4 separate regions of the Homo sapiens genome follow, and regions 1, 2 and 3 are each reported to be linked to region 4. The links are microRNA targets in miRTarBase. Many come from high-throughput screens and were not tested one by one. Region 4 holds a microRNA gene; each other region holds the end of a gene's coding sequence.

Region 1 (3,087 bases), not on the chromosome of region 4:
GGGTGCAGGGGCTCACGCCTGTAATCCCAGCACTTCAGGAGGCCAGGGTGGGTGGATCGCCTGAGCCCAGGAGTTTGAGACCAACCTGGACAACATAGTGAGACCATCTCTACAAACATAAAAATAAATTAGCTAGGCATGGTGGCACATGCCCGGGGTCTCAGTTACTGCAGAGGCTGAGGCAGGAGAATCACTTAAACCCAGGAGTTCAAGGCTGCGGTGAGCTGAGATCACACCACTGCACTCCAGCCTGGATGACAGAACAAGACCCTGTCTTAAAAAACAGACAGACAACAAAAGAATGTGTCTCTGAAAAAGGCCCACGTCTGTGGCTGTTAAACAGAGCAGCTCGTCTCCTGAGGCTGGAGCGATGGAGCTGGAAGGGCCTCACAGCTGTCCGGGCCAGGCTCCTTGCTGCACAGGTGGGATCTGCTGGCTCCAGAGAGTTCTTCAGACCCTGCAAGAGGGATCTGAGAAGAGGGACCAGGCCCCCCGGTTCCCAGGCCCTGACTCTCCCACTGTTTGTCCTTCCCTGATCAGAGCAGATAAACATCACCGTACCATAGATGGGACTTCTAGAAATTCCCCACACAGGACTGGGTTAATTCTAAGGTATTGCTTTAGCTCTGTGAAGAAAATGTAGTCAATTTGTAAAATTGAAGTCAATTTGTAAAATGACTCAATTTGTAAATGAAGTCAATTTGTAAAATATCACAGACTCCTTATTTTTATCCTTATTTTCAGCATCCTCAATGAGTGCAAACTTTCTTGACATGTCTATTTTTGAAAAATCTTTATTGCTTTTCCTGATTGTACAACAAATGTAAAAATTCAAATATTACAAAATGACTTAATTTAAAAAGTACATTTTAACATGTTATAAAATAAATGCCCATTTCAAAAAATTCAAGTATCATAAAATACATGACGTAGAAAATGAGCCCTCTGTAATCTAGCCCAACCCCCGTATCCCCCAGGATTACTGCTGTTCAGATCCGCGTGTTTCCTTCCAGACCGTCTCTGTGCACCCGCCACCCACACGGCTGACATGAGCTCCATATGATCCGAGATGATAGTAACGCTGACCAACGGAGCAGGGTTCAGCTGCCGATGCCCTGAACAGCTTCCAGTTTCTACACAGAAACGCTTTCCTCATAAAAGCCTGAAACTGTGACACAGTTTTGCACTATGTAAATGTATCAGGTTGAATCATGAAATAAATGATCGCTCACCATTTTTGGCCTAGAAAACAGCAGTTTCACGTGGTTCAACGTGATAGCTGTTCAACAGACATTGGGGGGTTTCCTATTTCTTGCCATTATAAACAATTCAGCAGGTCAGGTGCAGTGGCTCATGCCTGTAATCCCAGCACTTTGGGAGACCGAGGCGGGCAGATCACCTGAGGTCAGGAGTTCGAGAACAGCCTGGCCAACATGGTGAAACCCCGTTTCTACTAAACATACAAAAATTAGCTGGCCCTGGTGGTAGGTGCCTGTAATCCCAGCTACTTGGGAGGCTGAGGAAGGAGAACCACTTGAACCTGAGAGGCGGAGGTTGCAGTGAGCCAAGATTGCATCACTGCACTCCAGCCTGAGCGACAGAGTGAGACCCTGTCTCAAACAAACAAAAAAAAAAATCAGCAGTGAATGTCCTTGTATGTTCTTTACGGAGTATAAACATCGTACCCCCAAAGCATGACACCTCTTTTGGGCATTTAGAAGAGTCAAGAGGATGGAGCTGCCCATTTGCCATGGAAAGGGAGACCCAGCAGAGAGCTGATACATAAACAACTTGTCCCTCAAGCAAGGTGGCCAACTTCAGCCATGACACCATTTGAGTATGGTGACCACATTACATGAGCAAACCCAACGCTGGTGAAACCAGAGAACAGAAGAATTCCTCAGCCCAGAGACAATTCTTATCCCTACTGACCCGTATGACCAGGTACTCACAGACATCCAACGAGTACCCCAGAGCTGTCCTCTGGAAGTTGGGCTGTCAGAAGGTATAAGAAATGATTCAGGCTGGGCGCAGTGGCTCACACCTGTCATCCCAGCACTTTGGGAGGCTGAGGTGGGCGGATCACCTGAGGTCAGGAGTTTGAGACCAGCCTGACCAACATGGTGAAACCCCGTCTCTACTAAAAATACAAACATTAGCCGGGCGTGGTGGCACATGCCTGTAATCCCAGCTACTCGGGAGGCTGAGCCGAGATCGCGCCACTACACTCCAGCCTGGGCAACAAAAGTGAAACTCCATCTACAAAACAAAACAAAACAACAAAAAAAACCCCAACAATTCAGAAATGTAATGAAATCAGATTTGGAGGAAACATTTTTTAAGGTTTTTTCCAGGAGCTACTGGAGTGACCAAAAAAACGAAAAACAAAAAAACAAAAAAGGCACCTGTTAAAATGATGCCCACGTCAGGCCTCAAACAAAGACCAGGACGTGGTGTGTACGTGTCACTGGCGTTTCCGCACAGGCTGCTTCCGCTTCAACCTTGTCTGGGGTTTGTAGATTCTGCTTGGGTCACAGTTGAGCTTGTGGGTGGTTTTCTTATGGCAGACAATGTGCACTAGTTTTAGGTTCTCTGAGGTAAAAAGCAGGCCATAAAAATACTCCCAGTCCACTTCTCTTCCATCTTGTTCCTTAATTGCTTCCACCAGTGTAGGAATGATGGTGCGTTTCTTTTCTATTCTGCAAAGTAAGGTTAGAGACATCATTTTCTGTGGTCACAGTGCCACAGGCAACAGGTCATAGCAGTGTATTGCAGTCACAGCTCTTCACAAATTCCCCTAAGTGCTATCACGGACACACGGCCGCACCTACTGGCCAGGTTTGTTGAGCAGAGCCTGATGCAAGCAGCCTGGCTCCTCTTACTTTTTAAAACTTGACTTGTGGCCGGGCACGGCGGCTCACGCCTGTCATCCCAACACTTTGGGAGGCCGAGGCGGGTGGATCACTTGAGGTTGGGAGTTCGAGACCAGCTTGGCCAACATAGTGAAACCCCATCTCTACTAAAAATACAAAAAATTGGCTGGGCTTGGTGGTGGGCACCTGTTATCCCAGCTACTTGGGAGGCTGA
Region 2 (3,087 bases), not on the chromosome of region 4:
GCTGCGGCTGCTCATCACGGCCTGGGAGAGAAGACTCATCTTCACTATCGGCACGTCCAACACCACGGGCGAGTCGGACACCGTGGTGTGGAACGAGATCCACCACAAGACCGAGTTTGGATCCAACCTCACGGGCCACGGCTACCCGGACGCTAGCTACCTAGACAACGTGCTGGCTGAGCTCACAGCCCAGGGCGTATCCGAGGCTGCAGCCAAGGCTTGAGGCCCAAGGCTGCCCACCTTCCCTCCTGCTTTGCCCCTGGTCCGGCAAATGCCTCCTTCGCCAGGTGTGTCCTGGTAGCCCAGGTTCAGGGCTGGGGAGGAGCCTGCGGAAGGGGCCGCAGCCATTCAGGGGACCTGCCTGGTGGCAGCTGGGATGAAGAGAGATGGCATGTCAGGCTGGCCCCGAATCATAGCTCCCTGAGAGGGCCAAGCAGAGAGTACTGGAAACCTCCCTACCAAAAAGACAGAGACCCGCCCCCTCACACACAAACACACATGTCCTGTTGAACTCATGCACGCACACCCACGTGCCTGTACTTGCCCCCAGGCTGGAAGAGAAGAGACAGAAAGACCCCATGACCCCCCCATGTGGATCCCCATCTGTGTCTCAGTTGCATCTGTACAGCCTTGTCTGCAAACTGGAGGATGCGGGGCAAGCCCTTAGGGGCCTGCCAGGGCTCGGGGGGCAAAGAGGGACTCGGGAAACTCAGTGTACCCCAGATGCCTCACCCATTCCGTGTCATCACCCATGTCTGCCACCCACTGATTGGGCAATTGTGGGCCCATGGGGTGGAAGCCCCCAGATGACTGAGCAGTTCTACAAAAGAATGGCCAGCACGAGCGGGGACTAGAGGGTCCTGATTTTGTGTCTGTGCCTCTTCATCTCTCTGGACTCTGATCTCCTTCTCCCTTCCCATCTCCAGGCCTTCTGTCTGTCCCAGATAAAGGCGCTGTTCTCCCATCCTCCCTACCCCATCCTCTCCACCAAATCGCTCCCAATTTTGAGAGCCAAAGGCTGGCGCTTCTGACTTCAGGAGCGAAAGGAGGAGGCCTAGTTTGGGCCGATGTATTTTAAAGCAGAGTGGACAGCAGAGAGTCAATTTCCCTTTCGTTGGGAGTGGGCAGTGGGGTGGCTAATTGTCTTCGGCCAACCAGGGGCCTGTTGCCCAGGCAACTCACCAGCTCCGCCTCTGCTGATTGGCTGCCACGGTGGGAGTCAGCCAAGATTTAAAGGGATGCCAGCGATTGCTCTTTTCAAAACCTACCAGTCCCACTGTGGGTGGAGAAATAAATGGTCTTTCTCCTCCTCGCCTGGTCTTTTCCTGCCAAGAGAGGGGTGGGTGGCTCTGTTCCTGGGGGCTGCAGTCAGCCCCGTTGGGGAGTGATGGCTTGCAAGAGAATGACTTCAGGGTCCTTGCCTCGGGCTGGAAGGGGTGGGGGCGGTGAAGCAGTGGCAGACCCTCCTAGTCCTAGTCTCCAAGAATGCAGAGGTGAAAGTGCCCTTCTCTTTCACAAGAGCACAAGGCAATGCACACATCTGCTCCCTGGCACAATGACAAGAAACAAGGAACTCAGGTGCAGAGCTGGGAGCCTCGAGGGAAATACGGAGGAGCTGGGAGACACTGTGATCAGCTCATCAGGATCTCAGAGCTTGTCAGGACCCTGTCCTTGGGGAGGAGGGTCAGGTTCTAACTAGGGAAAAACAGGGATGGACCCCAGCCTTAAATCAGCCTCTCTGCAACATGCCAGGACGCCCCTGTAGTTCTGGTGGATGCTGCGGCTTCGGGCAACCCCTGCTGGCCACCCTCGGGATAGCGCCGTGTCTTTCCTGGTCCACTTGATCCCCTGCCAGGTAGGCTTTGGTTTCTGTCCCACCCCCTAGTGACACAACACCGGAAACGAGTCCTTGGAGGCCCTTCCAGTTCTGCCAGTCACATGTTCCCAAACATTTGTACTCCGTGGTTCATTCTCAGACAAAACCTCAACCCAAACTCTGGCATATAAAATTGCAAGCCAGGCACTGACTCACACCTGTAATCCCAGCAACTAAGGAGGCCGAAGCGGGAGGCTCATTTGACGCCAGGAGCTTGAGACCAGCCTGGGCAACATAGTGAGACCCCCCATCTCTACAAAAATTTAAAAATTAGCCAGGCGTGATGGCTTGCACCTGTAGTCGCAGCTGCTCTGGAGGCTAACGTGGGAGGATCACTGAAGTCCAGAAGTTTGAGGGTGCACTGACCTATGATCATGCCACTGTACTGCAGCCTGGGCAACAGAGTGAGACCCCCAACTCTAAAAACAAAATAAAATAAAATTGCCCATTCCCCAGGCCTGTGGTCCTCAAAGCTGATACTCATCCAAATGACCTACGGAATCTGTTAAATAACCCTGATTCTTGCCTTCATATACCCTCAGATTCTGAGTCAGTAGCTGGCTGGGCCTCAGAAATCTGCATTTCTAGCAGACATTCTAGCGGGTGGTCTTTGGCCCACAGTCAGAGAAACTCCTCCCTTGTTCTTGAACTACCTCATTGGAATCCAGTTTGAAAACCACACATCTAGACTTTCCCTCCTCTTTTTATACAGGGTAATCTGAGACCCAGAGAGAGATAAACAGCCTGGCCCAAGGTCTCCCAGGCTCCAAGGGTCTGAGTTTGGCACACTGGACCCCCACCCAGCCTTGGTTCTTCCTGAGGGCACCTGATTCTGGAAGCTTGTGGTTGGAGTCCTAGGCCAAGGGCAGGGTACAGAAGAATCAGTGAGGTTATAGGGATTAGCAGACATGAAAACAGGAAGGAGTGAGGCCATTTAGTGCCCATCTGGGGCAACAACATCACATGGGCATCAGGAATTCAGGTCCAGCTGTATCCAGCAGCTCAGGGCCAGGCTGGCCTCCTTGGTATGGATAGAGGCCAGTTTGGTGAAGTAGAGACCCCAGTCTCAGTCAAATAAGTCAGGTTCCTTATCCTATCCACTCCAGTCTGAATCAAGCCAGAGGGCAAGTTTCACTCAGTGCAAGGCTGGCCCCTGCCAAAGGGCTTCCATGCCCTGAGTTCTGGACTCAAGGCACACAGGACTAGGCACG
Region 3 (3,087 bases), not on the chromosome of region 4:
AAGGTGGGAAAGACAGACAGGAAGTGTAGCTCTTAGTCTATGGGGCTCTCCTTAGGGGACAAAAAGATGGCTTAGGCTCCGTGGGTTTTCAACTCGTAGAAAAAATAACCCTGGGAACCAAAGCAGTTGTTGTGTGCTGAGGAGATGGTGACCTCCGTGTGACCTGAACATGGGTGAAGGTATTTGAGGAGGCGTGATGAGCTTCCGTCCAGGAGTACCCGTGGTTGTCTGTGTCATTAAGGGCGCAGGGTGTAAGGAAACCAGGTTCCCAGGCTGCATAACAAAATTGTTCTTCGTGGACAGGTCAAATGACTGATGAGAAAGAGGTCCAGATCTCTCCCCAGCACGCCACATTCTCTTTCGGCTCTAAGGCAATTCAAAACTTGGCGCTCACTTAGTTATTTCCTAAGAGATTTCTGCCTGCATTCCTCCAGCCTGGAACCCAAGGCCCTAGCAGGCAGGCTGTTTGCTTGCTTGTGTGTTGTGTGATACCAGAGCCAATTCAGAAGAAAATTGAATGTCTGTGGGCCCCCGGATCTATGTTTTTAGAACTTACTTAGATTACTTCTGTGTTGAATGGAAGAATGAAAATGAGAAAAATAACACATTTTTAGTACGACAAGAAAATTTCTGAGCATTTTTGAGAGTAGCAACATAGAGGCAGCTTTCTAGTCTTTCATCCTTGGCTTAGTGCTTTAGGATTCTTAAAGTGTGCTCTTTTACCCTTGACACACCCCAAGAGGTAGATATCGTCACCCCCATTTTGCAGATGGGGAAATGAGTCAGCAAGGAAAAGTGTCTCACCCAAATCCTACAGCCGATGAGCTGCAGAGTTCAGGTGAATGGCGTAACTCAGCATCACGGACCCCTCCGAGAGACTGGCCCGATAATCCAGGCGCAGGTCCACTAGGGCGTGCTCACAGACACGCAAGGCTACACACCATGCACACCTCCACTTCTCCAAGGACCCCTCTTGCCTAAGGTCACGTCCTGGGCTTTTGCCCACAGATCTCTGCACACGGTGCTTCATGCCCTGTGCAGGGTGGGCAGATGTGCTGGGCGCTCCCATCAAGCCTGCCTGCAGGGCCGCCAGCGAGTTAACTCAGGCCCTAGGCTCTGCAGTACGCTCTTCCCACAAGTCAGCCAGGATTTTTTCCCTTTTTCACTTCTGTGGATTCAAATAATTCATTTGTATCAACAAACAAACAATGCATTATTGTCCTGTAAGCAGAGGGAGCTTCTCTAGAGCTGTCTTGTAACTCCTTGGCTTACCTAGTTTGGTTGATAAACAATGACTAAATGAGCAAATAGCCAAAAACATAACTGCATAGAATAGGCCTTATAATGTGTGGCCAGTTTTTGTATAGAGCTGTTCATTCCTTCTCATGTTACCACAGCAACACAGGCAGCTTTTCTCAGCAACTTTCAGCTGCGCACCTGGAGAAAGACATATCCTTCCTAACTCATGCTCCAAATACCTATCGGTCCAAGTGCCATTGGTGTCTTGGCCTAAGATGATTTAATAGCTAGCATTTGTTCTGCAAAAATAGCACTGCTTTTAGTTTCTTCTTCTTTTGCATTTTTGGCACCTGTTGGCTGACAGCAGTCTGCAAAGGCCGCTGGAGATGCTACAGGGCAGAACTATTCCGTGGAGTAAAATGGGAGCAGACAGGAGCCCGGAAGGAAGGCAGAAGCCTGGGGGTTTTTTGTACATGGGATGTCGGCTCTGATTTGACCCTCATCAGAGCAGGACCTGGCTCCTTTAGGGCTGCAGACAAGCTCTACATGCTGGGAAGGGGCGAGGCATTTTATAAAGTGAAACTGCATTTTATCAGGGGTGACTTTGGCTGTCACTGCTGAGAGGAACAGTCGATGCAAGCTCATCTCACAAATCACTGCAGAATGCCCAGGCTGTACGTTCATGATGTTTGTGTTCAATTTCAAGATCCATTTCTTCAGGGAGTTGGGTCCATCTTCAAGACTTACGCCAGGAGACTGCACTGCAGAGACCGAGCGAAACTCTCCCTTGCTGTGTGCCAGGGACACGCTTCGTTGGTCTCCACGCACGTGCTTGCCATCTCTGCTCTCACAAATGCTCACGGGCTCCTGGACCTGTGTCTCCTGCCAGGAGCTGTGCTGGCCTGCCCACCCCTCTCAGCTGCCCACACCTCCGCGGCAGCTGCCTCCCGTGAGTAGGATCTGAAACACCAAAGCCACGGGCAAGGGCAGGATGGAGGGGCAGCGGTCCATGTCAACATACACCACAGATGACCCAGAAAAGCACTTTAATTTTTTTTTCTTGGAGGCATAATTTAGTCATCTCACCTAAAGCACTTTTCACTTTATCTCTGGCAACCAAGGGTTACAGAAAACTCAGCACCAAAGGATGAAAGGGGAACTTGTCCCCTTCGGTCCCCAGCCCTGCCCTCCCCTGCAGCCTAAAATACCCTTTCTATGATCACAGAACAAAGTTCACACTCACCACACAGCCATTCTCACACACACTCGCACAAAAAGAAAACCAAAGCCCACTAAAGCACATGGGGAAAAAAAGATTACAAAACATCTTCCTCCCCATCCGGCCTTGAGACCAGACTCCCTGGCTGGAGAGGTCGTGACTTCCGCCGTGCCCAGCAGGGGCTCACCCAGCCTTTGTCACCGTGTCCCACTAAGGAGGATATGCAGAGGCCACCAGTTCCCCAAGGTTCCCTTCGGATGGTGACACCTCCCTGAGTCAGTCATTCAGTTTCTGCTTGCTGTCAGAGTTGCCGTAGGCAGAGCCCTTGTCAATTTCCGTCACACCAATCATCCATCGAACTCCCACGGAGGCTGCAGAGACAAGGAGAGCAGAGTTAGGAGTAGCCCAAACAGACTACAGGGCCGTTTTCCCACAGAGCAAGTGAGAAGGCCCGTGGCCGCAAATCACAAGCGCCAGCTCAGAGCTGGCTGGCGGGTTTGAGGTGCCATCATCCTGCCGGCTTTACAATCATCCTTGAGTGTGGACATCCATGTGACATTAAGACAAAGCAAGGCTGCTCTGGTGGGGGTTTTCCTCCTTGGACCCTGAAGGTGAATGATTTGGCAAGC
Region 4 (3,087 bases):
TTGCAGTAATCTCAAATTGGAAACAACCCAAATGTCCATCTTTGGTAGAACGTATAAATTGTGTTATATTCATACAATGGAATACTACACAGCAATGAAAATGAAGATACTATTATTACTCTCAACATGAATGAATCTCACAAATAGTTGAGTAGGAAAAGCCAGTAATAAAATAATACACACTGTATCATTCCATTTTGTCTAATGTTTAAAAATAGGCCAAATTGGTCTAGGGTATTAGAAGCCAAGATTACAGTCAATTTGAGGGAGGATAATGCCTAGAAAAGATAATGAAGGGAGCTTCTGGTATGGTAGTAGTTTCTGCCTCCCAATCTGGGTGCTAGCAATATGTAGGTGTGTTTACTTTATGAAAATTCATCAAGCTCTCTGATTATAATTTGTGCATTTTTCTGTCTGTATGCTATACTTCAATAAAGATAGATTTATACTGAGTTAGGAACAAAGCTCAATAACTATAATTCTAGGCTGAGCTGCTAATAGGATTTGTTAAACAATTTAAACTGTGCCAGTCAGATATAATGATGCGAAATTAGAAAGGTAAAAGGAAGAGAGAGGCTATTTCCCCTGCCTATTAGTTTTCCTTCCTTCCTTCCTTCCTCCCTTTTCTTTCTCTTCTTTCTCCTTCCTTCTTTCTCTTTCTCCTTCCTTCCTTCCTTCCTTTTCTTTCTCTTCTCCTTCCTTCCTTCCTTCCTCTTCTTTCCCTTCCTTCCTTTCTCTCTCTCTCTTTTTACCTTCCTCCTTCCCTCCCTCCTTCTCTCTCTCTATTTATTTATTTTTTGAGAAAGATTCTTGTTCTGTCCAGGCTGGAGTACAGTGGCACAATCACAACTCACTGCAGCCTAGACCTCCTGGGCTCAAGGATCCTCCCACCTCAGTGTCCCAAATGTTTGGGACTTCAGGCATGCACCAACATGCCTGGCTGCCTATTAGTTTTCACTGGTAGTTGTTGATGTACGTGCAACATTAAATGTGGTTTTTAATGACCAGACTTTCTGTGCCTCTGCATTGCCACTAACTTCATCTGTGAGAAATGACTGTGATGCCAGCAGTGGACTTTATAGCTTCCTGACCTCTAGATTGTAGCTGTGTGGACTGAACTGCGAGCCCAACAGCATCCCTCTTAATGCTCCTACCATTAGAAGGGCTGGAAGAAGGCATCTCCCTCAGCCTTCTTCCAGCTCTTCTAATGGTAAGAGCATATAATTTTTAAGCATATAATTCTTAGCATTCAGTACCTAGAGAAGTGTCTGCACTGAACCCCAACTGATATATCAGTTAATAACACAACTGATAGGTTATCTAGTAGGTTTATGGTTGGTTGTAAGAATCTTTGGGAAAGAAAATTACCATTGGCAATCCTACCACCTAGGATCATCATTATCATGGGAAAGTTCTGCTTTAGAGGCAACCTAAATCTATTTTGAGGTCCTGAAAATGCATTTACTTCACAGGATATGCTGGTTTCTGCTGCCATTCAAAAATTATTCTTAAGGCATTCTTTGTTCTCTTTTCACTAGCTAAATAATGCCGTGCTTTTAACTTTTCTTTATGTGTTCAGCAGCTTTTCCCAGTTGTGGATATTTGAAAAAAGTATTCATATAAATACTGCCTGTTCTGGTAGGATTAGCTGTCCCTTTCTTTTGGTTATATTCCCAAGTTCATTCTTGCTTATCTAACCAAAGCCCTACATTGCTGACTCAAGTTTAGTTTATGGTCCAAGCCCAGTATCATGTTACTATTAGCCAAGATTTCCCATGGGTTGAGGCAGACTTGTAGAAGATTGAAAAATAAAACTTACTGGCCATAAGTAAGACTTTTTATCTGGCCTTCCAGTACAGAACATTCTCTAATATAGCAGCTTATAAACAATGAGAATCAGAAGCCTAAAAAAATTAGTTAATAGCCAAACAGTGACTGAATCATGGAATTGTACAGTTAGAATGGACCTTAGAAGCAGTCTATATAAGCCAGGTATAGTGGCTCATGCCTGTAATCTCAGCACTTTGGGAGGCCAAGGCAGGAGGATCTCTTGAGCCCTGGAGTTTGAGACCAGCCTGGCCAAAATGGTGAGACCCCATCTCTACTAATTTTTTTAAAAAGTCTATATACATACCAGAACACAGAGCTCAGATATGTATGCAGGATTCCAGTCCGTGCTGAATACTCTTCCAGTATGAGTACTCTTCCTACTCCTCAAGGTGTGTGGCCCTCAAAGCAGCAGCATCAGCACTTACCTGGGAGCTTGTTAGAAAGCCAGAATCTCAGGCTCCAACACCCACTGAAGCAGAATTTGCATGTAACACCCCCACCCCTTCTTGATTTGTATGCATGTTGAAATTTGTGGAGTTAGAGACAAAAGCACCACAGGTGCATGTCTTACTATTTAAAGTCTTGCCTAATTATATAACATAGAAACCTGATCCCTTCTGGACAAGGCCTGTATTATTACAGGTCCTGGTCTAATAGAGTATTTGAATAGCTGGGTTAAAGAAAAAGAAAACTCTCTTTAATAATCTTTGGAAAAAGAGGACATTTATTTGAGCTATGCTAGTTTTTAATGTACCTATTCAGATTTTAATCCATTAGAAAAATTAATAGCCTATTTGGTAGTAGCATGTCCTGAAAAAATAAGCTGAATAAATTGAAAGTATTTAAATGGATATTTAAACTCTGCAGCCATCGGTGATTTAGTTTTCAATTACATAAAGGTAATTACACTAGAATCCACCTCATTCACCCTGCCGTGAGAAAATGCTGGAGTGTTGTAATAAGCCAATGCTTTCAGGCAGTGACTGGTCTCCACTCCTTTTTGGCTGGGACCTGAATTCATTTGCTTTAAGCAGTTTAGGGTGTATGCTAGGAATATAAATTATAGAAACACCCTTTGTGACCCTTTTTACAAATGAAGTTGCATCACTATGAAGGGTGTATGTGAGGCTATAGGCCCAGCCTCTCAGATTGGGAATAGCTGACACTGCATGCAGATTTGGCCTGCTAGGTAAAGGCGGGACGGTGGTTTAGGACAGTGCCCCAGCTGGGCTCTTCCTAGACCAGTGGTTCTTAAAG

Evidence for each region. Region 4 holds the annotated microRNA hsa-miR-6512-3p (UUCCAGCCCUUCUAAUGGUAGG, at 1,150-1,171, opposite strand). A microRNA usually pairs through its seed, bases 2 to 8, with sites in the 3' UTR of a target mRNA and lowers its output. Matches are read on the target gene's strand: a 7mer-m8 pairs with bases 2 to 8, a 7mer-A1 pairs with bases 2 to 7 and ends in A, and an 8mer does both.
Region 1: the mRNA of DFFB is a reported target of hsa-miR-6512-3p. Seed matches in the 3' UTR shown: 7mer-m8 at 2,229-2,235 and 7mer-m8 at 1,585-1,591.
Region 2: the mRNA of DTX1 is a reported target of hsa-miR-6512-3p. Seed matches in the 3' UTR shown: 8mer at 550-557.
Region 3: the mRNA of AGPAT4 is a reported target of hsa-miR-6512-3p. Seed matches in the 3' UTR shown: 7mer-m8 at 430-436.

Annotation. Positions count from the first base shown.
Region 1 is chr1:3,883,119-3,886,205 of GRCh38, reverse strand. It overlaps DFFB (DNA fragmentation factor subunit beta), which reads right to left. Exons shown (of 7, transcript NM_004402.4): 7 at 777-2,699. The coding sequence ends at 2,465. Among named protein-coding and RNA genes, the nearest start is that of C1orf174, 16 kb to the left of the region's middle.
Region 2 is chr12:113,096,717-113,099,803 of GRCh38, forward strand. DTX1 (deltex E3 ubiquitin ligase 1) reads left to right here. Exons shown (of 10, transcript NM_004416.3): 10 at 1-1,309. The coding sequence ends at 223. RASAL1 (RAS protein activator like 1) reads right to left here. Exons shown (of 21, transcript NM_001301202.2): 21 at 2,562-3,087. Among named protein-coding and RNA genes, the nearest start is that of RASAL1, 38 kb to the right of the region's middle. RefSeq lists enhancers at 776-1,317, 1,534-1,793.
Region 3 is chr6:161,133,806-161,136,892 of GRCh38, forward strand. It overlaps AGPAT4 (1-acylglycerol-3-phosphate O-acyltransferase 4), which reads right to left. Exons shown (of 9, transcript NM_020133.3): 9 at 1-2,829. The coding sequence ends at 2,735. Among named protein-coding and RNA genes, the nearest start is that of AGPAT4-IT1, 27 kb to the right of the region's middle.
Region 4 is chr2:177,312,662-177,315,748 of GRCh38, forward strand. MIR6512 (microRNA 6512) reads right to left here and starts at 1,221; the gene lies at 1,145-1,221. The region is part of intron 6 of LOC100130691 (Putative uncharacterized protein FLJ44553); the gene reads right to left.